Linked DNA regions of Homo sapiens. The protein of the gene in region 1 purifies or fractionates together with the protein of each later gene. This does not show direct contact. Each region holds a gene or a part of one and is shown in the gene's direction. Other genes may lie near its edges. The genes, in order: BRSK2 and CRAMP1.

The links.
Region 2: the proteins of BRSK2 (region 1) and CRAMP1 purify together in Homo sapiens (affinity purification with mass spectrometry; one large-scale study listed by BioGRID and IntAct). This does not show direct contact.

Annotation. Positions count from the first base shown.
Region 1 is NC_000011.10:1,392,817-1,396,621, forward strand, and holds part of BRSK2 (serine/threonine-protein kinase BRSK2), read left to right. Parts: intron 1-3,805. UniProt on the Homo sapiens protein: Serine/threonine-protein kinase that plays a key role in polarization of neurons and axonogenesis, cell cycle progress and insulin secretion. Phosphorylates CDK16, CDC25C, MAPT/TAU, PAK1 and WEE1.
Region 2 is NC_000016.10:1,664,298-1,668,102, forward strand, and holds part of CRAMP1 (protein cramped-like), read left to right. Parts: intron 1-759; coding exon 760-841; intron 842-1,775; coding exon 1,776-1,880; intron 1,881-2,124; coding exon 2,125-2,303; intron 2,304-3,037; coding exon 3,038-3,103; intron 3,104-3,664; coding exon 3,665-3,805.

The DNA of each region.
Region 1 (3,805 bases):
GTCCTGCAGGGCCAGTGTGGCTGTAGGGTCGTCCTTCTGCATGGGGCGTCCTCTGCACAGCTCCCCTCGGTGGCTGTGGGGGTTGCCTTCAGTGGTCTCACTGCCGGTGCCAGGCACCAGGTGAAGCCGTCAGAGCACTGAGCATCTGTGGAAGCCTCCTCGCCGGCTGCTTGGTGGTTTCTGGCCAAGACTTAGGGGGATGTAGGCTGGGGTTGGGGTGGGAACCCACCTGCAAAGGTGCTGCCTTAGCTTTTCTTGGGGCTGAGAAAGGCTTGTGTAGCCTCATCTGAGCTTGACCCCTGCAGAGATGCCGAGACACAGTCCCTGCCAGCAAGGGCAACCATGGAGGTTGGAGGGCGCAGACACTCCGAGTTGGAGCATGCAGGTCCAGGAGGGTGTGTGGCACGGGCTGGGTGGCTTTTGTCCCTGCGCGCCTTTGTCCCTGTGCCCCATCAGTACGTGGAGCAGGGCACCTTCTTGCCCAAACCTCGGCTTAGCTCCTGAAATCTGGGAGGCCTGGGAGGGCCCTGTGGGAGGAGCTGGAGAACCTCGGGCCCTTGGAGCTGTTCTTGGGGGCAGGCGGGTGGGCTGCATGGGACGATGAGGGGCCTGCCTTCGGGAATCCTCTGTCTGGGGGGCGGGAGAAAGGAATAATGGCCGCGATAGGGCTCCCTGCGAGGGAACGAAGGAGCTAGGATGAGGGGCTGCCCTGCAGCTCACCTGGCAGTGTTCACCTGCTGTGGCGTGGGGGAGGGACCTAGGCTGCCAGGGACCTGGGGCCGCCCCTCCATGTTCTCAATGGCCTTTAGGAAGGTTGAGCCCTGGTGGCTGCCAGGGTGGAGAGGGGTCCTGGGATGGGAGGAGTCATTGAAGATGGAACAGGTGAGGGGAGGGAGAGCCTGTGCCTGGGAGACCCTGGGGGTGACCCCAGGCCCAGAAGCTGGAGGCAGATGTGGAGGGGAAGGAAGCTGGTCTGAGATGGGGTCTGTTTAGAAAGTTGAGCAGGACGGGCAGCGATGGGCTGTGGTGTGCAGGTCCCTGGAGATGGGCCATGGAGATGGGTCCTGGAGATGGGTCCTGGAGATGGGCCCCTGGAGATGGGCCATGGAGATGGGTCCTGGAGATGGGTCCTGGAGATGGGTCCTGGAGATGGGTCCTGGAGATGGGCCATGGAGATGGGTCCCTGGAGATGGGCCCCTGGAGATGGGCCATGGAGATGGGTCCTGGAGATGGGTCCTGGAGATGGGTCCTGGAGATGGGCCATGGAGATGGGTCCCTGGAGATGGGCCATGGAGATGGGTCCTGGAGATGGGTCCTGGAGATGGGCCATGGAGATGGGCCATGGAGATGGGTCCTGGAGATGGGCCCCTGGAGATGGGCCATGGAGATGGGTCCTGGAGATGGGCCCCTGGAGATGGGCCATGGAGATGGGTCCTGGAGATGGGTCCTGGAGATGGGTCCTGGAGATGGGCCATGGAGATGGGCCCCTGGAGATGGGCCCCTGGAGATGGGCCATGGAGATGGGTCCTGGAGATGGGTCCTGGAGATGGGCCATGGAGATGGGCCATGGAGATGGGTCCTGGAGATGGGCCCCTGGAGATGGGCCATGGAGATGGGTCCTGGAGATGGGTCCTGGAGATGGGCCATGGAGATGGGTCCTGGAGATGGGCCATGGAGATGGGTCCTGGAGATGGGTCCTGGAGATGGGCCCCTGGAGATGGGCCATGGAGATGGGTCCTGGAGATGGGTCCTGGAGATGGGCCATGGAGATGGGTCCTGGAGATGGGCCATGGAGATGGGTCCTGGAGATGGGTCCTGGAGATGGGCCATGGAGATGGGTCCTGGAGATGGGCCCCTGGAGATGGGTCCTGGAGATGGGTCCTGGAGATGGGTCCCTGGAGATGGGCCATGGAGATGGGTCCTGGAGATGGGTCCTGGAGATGGGCCCCTGGAGATGGGCCATGGAGATGGGTCCTGGAGATGGGTCCTGGAGATGGGCCATGGAGATGGGTCCTGGAGATGGGTCCTGGAGATGGGCCCCTGGAGATGGGCCATGGAGATGGGTCCTGGAGATGGGTCCTGGAGATGGGCCATGGAGATGGGTCCTGGAGATGGGTCCTGGAGATGGGTCCTGGAGATGGGCCCCTGGAGATGGGCCATGGAGATGGGTCCTGGAGATGGGCCCCTGGAGATGGGCTGTGCAGGGCTGAGCCCGGAGAGCGCATGGGTAGACAGGACCCGGCAGCCTCCCCAGCCATGAAGGTGAAGGTGGACTCAGCGTGGGGTGTCTGCTGCGAGACCCCAGGAATTCTGTGGCCTTCCCCACATCAGGCCCTGGCCATCTGACCCCAGCTGTTTTGTCAGGGCAGCAGCAGCCTGGGGCTGGACTGAACCCCTCATCTGCCCTGCACGGGGTTTCTACAAGCTGAGGTCTCAGGACGCTGTTCTCAGGGGCGCCGTGCACAGAGCCCGGGGAGCCAGCATGGTGGGTAGCCCTCCCATCTGAAGTCTCCCTGGCCCCCTGAAGTCCCTGGAAAGGCCCATTTGGTGTCGCTGGGCGCCATGTCAGTGACTGCGCCAGGGTGGAGGCCTCAAGATGCTGCCCCTGGCGTCTTCCTGCCCTGCATGCCCTCCACAGGGAGCCCCCTTTCCAGCTGAGAGCTGGCCTTGAGTGTCCCTGTCAGGGCCCTTGGCACAGAGGTTCCGGGTGGTGAGGACGGCAGTTCCCCTAGGCGGGGGCGGGAGGGTCGTTGGAGGCGGGAGCCCTAGGCCCTTGTCCTGTCCCCACCCACTGTGGCCCTGGGCACCTCAGGTGTGTGTGTCCCTGTTGACGTGGGTCTCCCTGCCTTGTCACTGGCAATGGCTGGAAAAGACACGCTGGGCAGAGGGCACCGCCCGGCCCTGATCGTGCTGGCCGTGCTGGCCCTGCTCTGCTGAGGTGCGTGCACGCCGTGGATTTCCTGGATGTGGAAGCCTCAAGGCCAGGCTGTGCCCCCTCCCCCAGCTGTGCCAGGGAGGGCTTTCCAGAGTCACCGTGGCTGGCTGCTGCCCCGCCTGCTCCACCATCTGCCCGAGCAGGGAGTTGTGTCCAGAACCACTGGGGAATGCAGGGCCTGGGCTGTGATGTGAGGTTGGCCTCTAGGCTTCAAGGGGATCTGTTTCTGGCAAATCTCACGCAGGCCCAGCTGGAGCTACTATCAAGGGCCGTGGCTCCTGCCCACGACCCAAGCTCCAGGGCCTCTGGGTCCCCACCATCGTTGGCTGCCGAGGTGGCCAGGTCCCTTCCTTGCTCTGAGGGTGGCTGGGAGTGTCTTAAGGTTGTCGCTGTGCCAGGTGTGTGTGGACCCCTGCGTCCCCCGCTCCTCGTCTCTCTTCCCTTCCACCCACGTCCCCCACTCCTGGTCCCTCTTCCCTTCCACCCACGTCCCCCACTCCTGGTCCCTCTTCCCTTCCACCCACGTCCCCCACTCCTGGTCCCTCTTCCCTTACAGCCGCCTCGAGGACTGCATGGGGCCAGCAAGGCCTGTACCCCAGGACACCAGAGTTGCTCGGACCGGCTCCCGGACCTGGGCCTAAGCGAGCTCTCCTGGTTCTCACTCCCGAGTCTGCGGAGTGACCCCGGGCCCTCTCATCATGGCCTCACCCTGCTCCGGCGCTCTGGGTGCTTTGAAGCAGACAGGAGACCCCCTCCAGGCTGGCCCGAGGGCAGGTCAGACCCCAGTCCCTGGGAACAGCCTGAGTGGGCTGTGCCTCCCCGTCGGCCACTGGCGCTCAGGAGGAGCCGTCGGGAAGGCCCCTTTGCCAT
Region 2 (3,805 bases), on another chromosome or scaffold:
CCTGGAAAGGAGCACTTCATGCCCTTTGGTGCCTGTGTGTTACAAGCAGTGACTTTATTTTACTCACCCCATGTGTGAGGAAGCCCAGAATGGGAGGTGTCACTCCTAAAAGTCCATGTCCAGTGGTTATAAACAGGTTTGTATAACTAGTTGCATTCCAGTCAAATCCAGAAGAAAGTTCTGGATTAAAAGTGGATCAGGCCAGGCACGGTGGCTCGCACCTGTAATCCCAGCACTTTGGGAGGCCGAGGCAGGTGGATCACCTGAGGTCAGGAGTTCAAGACCAGCCTGGCCAACGTGGAGAAACCCCGTCTCTACTAAAAATACAAAAACTAGCTGGGCGTGATGGCGAGTGCCTATAATCCCAGCTACTCGGGAGGCTGAGGCAGGAGAATCACTTGAACCCAGGAGGCAGAGGTTTCAGTGAGCCGAAATTGCACCACTGCACTCTAGCCTGGCTGACAGAGCAAGACACCGTCTCAAAAAAAAAAAAAAAAAGTGGATGACTCTGACATTCCTCCAGTTTCCCTGGGGAGGGTTTGATTACCTGGGTTTGTTTGAGAGAGGACCTAACTGGAGCTTGGGGTACATGGGTCCTAACTGTCTGAGCAGTCCCAGGTACCCTGTGTCATCGGCTCTGGAAAAAGCCCCACCTGGCTATGCTGGGCACCCTCTTACTTGGGACATTCCTTTGTAACTGGGAGTGATTTTTTGGTATGGGAGTTTCATCACCTTGATTGTTGACCATTTTCCCCACAGAGAACACTGCTCCCTAGACCATCGGAAAACCAGTCCCACAACGTTTGTTCCTTCTCCATCCTGTCTAACTCTTCCGTAACTGGTAAGGACCCTGAGCTTTTCTGGGGTAGCTTGTCCCTCCTCCTCACAGGAGGGCCTTGGCTTTGGAGACAATGGGTGCTTATTTCCATGGCCTATCTTCAGGCATTCCTTTGTCCATTCTACCGACAAATACCTAATGTGCCCTATGTGCTGGGCTGCAGGCTGCGGTGGCGGGCGAGGCAGCTAGTCCAGCGAGGCAGCTAGTCCAAAGGGTGCCCTTCGTCTGTGGCCTCAGATGGCCCTGTGTGAGGCGCTTGGCTTGGTTAGAGTTGTGTCTCTTGTCTGCTCTCTCTGTGTAATGTCTTGTCAGCCGTTTTATGGGATGGATGTGTTCTTGGGGTGTATGGATTATGCTTCCATCAGTCTGTACATTTAGTGGGGGCCTTGGCTCCTTGCGGTAGATATTACACAGGGAGAAGCCTCTAGTGAAACACATACTCTGTGACTTCCCTTTTCTACCAGTGTTGACTTCCACGTCTCTCACTGACTTATTGCAAGACCCTTAACAGCTGTCAATTGCTTTTTCTCTTGCCTACTTGTCAATTTTCAACTGTGGGAAGCCTGGCAAGATAAAACCAAATTGCAGTGGCAGCATCTTAGTCCAGAATCTGATGCTCTGACTGCCCTGGGGCCTGTACCTCAGCTTGGGGGCTTGTCACCCTTCAAGAGCCATTTCCGCAGGATGACAGTGGTGACCGCAGCCTTCCAGTAGCTCCTGGGAGGCACAGTGGTGGGTGCCAGAGCTTGTGTCACGTTGGGGGCCTGTGTGACCTCTGACTCCTCATGTTAGCATTTGGAATGTTCAGTGGCTTCCAGCTTGGCTCGGCTCCCACACTCCCAACAGTGGCTGTAAAGGAAGCCCCCTGCGGCCACATCCTGCTGTGAGGGCATGGCGGGCGGGCTCGACATGTCTGCTTTTGCCCTCGCCCTCGCAGGGAGAGGTTCGTTCCGGCCCATCCAGTCTTCTCTGACCAAAGCAGCTCTGTCTCGGCCGATCGTGCCCAAGGTCCTTCCACCCCAGGCCACGAGTCACCTGGCCAGTAAGTCTGTACCTGCATGGCCACAGCCACTGAGTGAGCCTCTGAGGGATGTTTTTGTGACCAGGTTTTTTGAATGTTTTCTTCTCCAAATCATAATGTCTCATTACCCTTCACCAAGAACATCTAAGCCCTTGGCTCTTGCATTGACATGAGGTGCGAGGGAGAAGCTGTTCCCCGAGCCCTCTTGGGACATCTTATGGGTTGTCAGTAGAGCAGAGATGTGCAGCGTCCTTTTTGTTGCCAGGTGCTATCGACTTAGCAGCTACAAGTGCCGGCATCCTTTCCGGGAACCCCCTCCCTGCCTTGGACACCGAGGGCTTGTCTGGCATCTCTCCACTGTCTTCAGACGAGGTGACGGGTGCCATCTCGGGGCAGGACTCTACTGGAACTCACCAGGATGGAGACACCCTCCCCACCGTGGGGGTGAGTATGTTTAGAAGGGCTTTTCAGCATTACCACCAACTTCTGGTGTGGACGCCAAAGCCATGGGGCTGAGATCACGCTGGACTCCAGCTCTGCCTTTGGAGGAGAGTCTCTGGACCAGGGGTGCCATGGCATAAGCAAACTCTGTGTAGTACAGAGCAGGAGAGGCCTCCGGAGCCACTGACGAAAGGTGGGGACAGGCTTGCCATGTGGCACTGGAGAACTCAGAGCTAAGACGGTGTGGAAACATAGCTCCATCTGAGAGTGACCATAACCAAGGTGGCAGCCCACAGCGCTGTGCTCGGACACCACTGAGCATCTCTTTCATCTGGGAAGAGAGCAGCCTGTATGGCCTTGGCCATTGCTCCTTTCCAAGGCTCTGAGCACCTGGTTTCTCTGGCCTCCCACGGCCACTTCAGAGCTGCCCCAAGGAGGGTGGGGTGGGCTGATGCTGTTAAGACTCCAGGGAGCCCAGCCCTGCCTGCCACAAGGTTGACTTCCTGATAGGACTTTACTTCACTCTTGGAAGCAACAAAAAATTGGAAGTACACGGTCCACACCTGAAAGTAGCCTTTCAGTGTTCTCGACCTTAGACCCCTGTCCATTTACTGTCCCTCTGCTGTTAGGAGGCCAGGGGGATGGAACGCCTCTTTTTCTGGAACTCTGTCGCGGGTGAGGGTATGGGTGGCATCTGGTGCACCCTGCGGCTGCTCATGGGCGTGCTCTTCCTGCAGGGCTCCGACCCATTTGTCAGCATCCCTTCGAGGCCTGAGCAGGAGCCAGTGGCAGACAGTTTCCAGGTAGAGTGTGCTCTTGGGCTGCTGAGCAAAGCAGCTGCCCCAGGACTCCCTCCAGTGCCCTGAGCTGCCACCTGCAGTCTTGGAGTGGCCCGGCTTCTCTCCTAGACTGTGCAGTGGCTTTGCTGTTCTTCCACCTGCTGTGCCGACTGCCCAGGGTGGATAAATGAATATGGCTGTCCGCCACCTCAGACTTCCCTCCTCCCCTCTCCAAGGTGGGCTGTTTCAGACCCAGCTCTGGAAGAACTTAGCGCTCTGGAAGAACTCAGCTTTCTGGGAGGAGGAGGCTGTCAGCTAGTAACTCCCCCAGCCCCCACTCTCTTTCTGGCAGCAGTCAAAGCAGGTCCAGGCCACTGCAGCCTGACTTTCTGACTCTGCCATAGTGAGTGTTTTTGGGAGAAATAAATTCCCCGAGTGTGTTCCTGAGTTGGAAGGATGAGGTGACTGCAGCGCTCATCACCCTATTGATTTGCCTGCAAGCTAGGAGAGTAAGCTGGTGTTTCTTCCCTTGTCATGGGTTCTGATAGACCTGGTTGTGTCTGAAAAATACCTGTCTCCCAGCAGGGCTCATCTGTTCTCTCCTTATCTGAGCTGCCCAAGGCCCCTCTCCAGAATGGCCTCTCCATACCGCTGTCCTCGTCAGAGAGCTCCAGCACCCGGCTGTCTCCACCAGACGTCTCTGCTCTGCTCGACATCTCCCTGCCC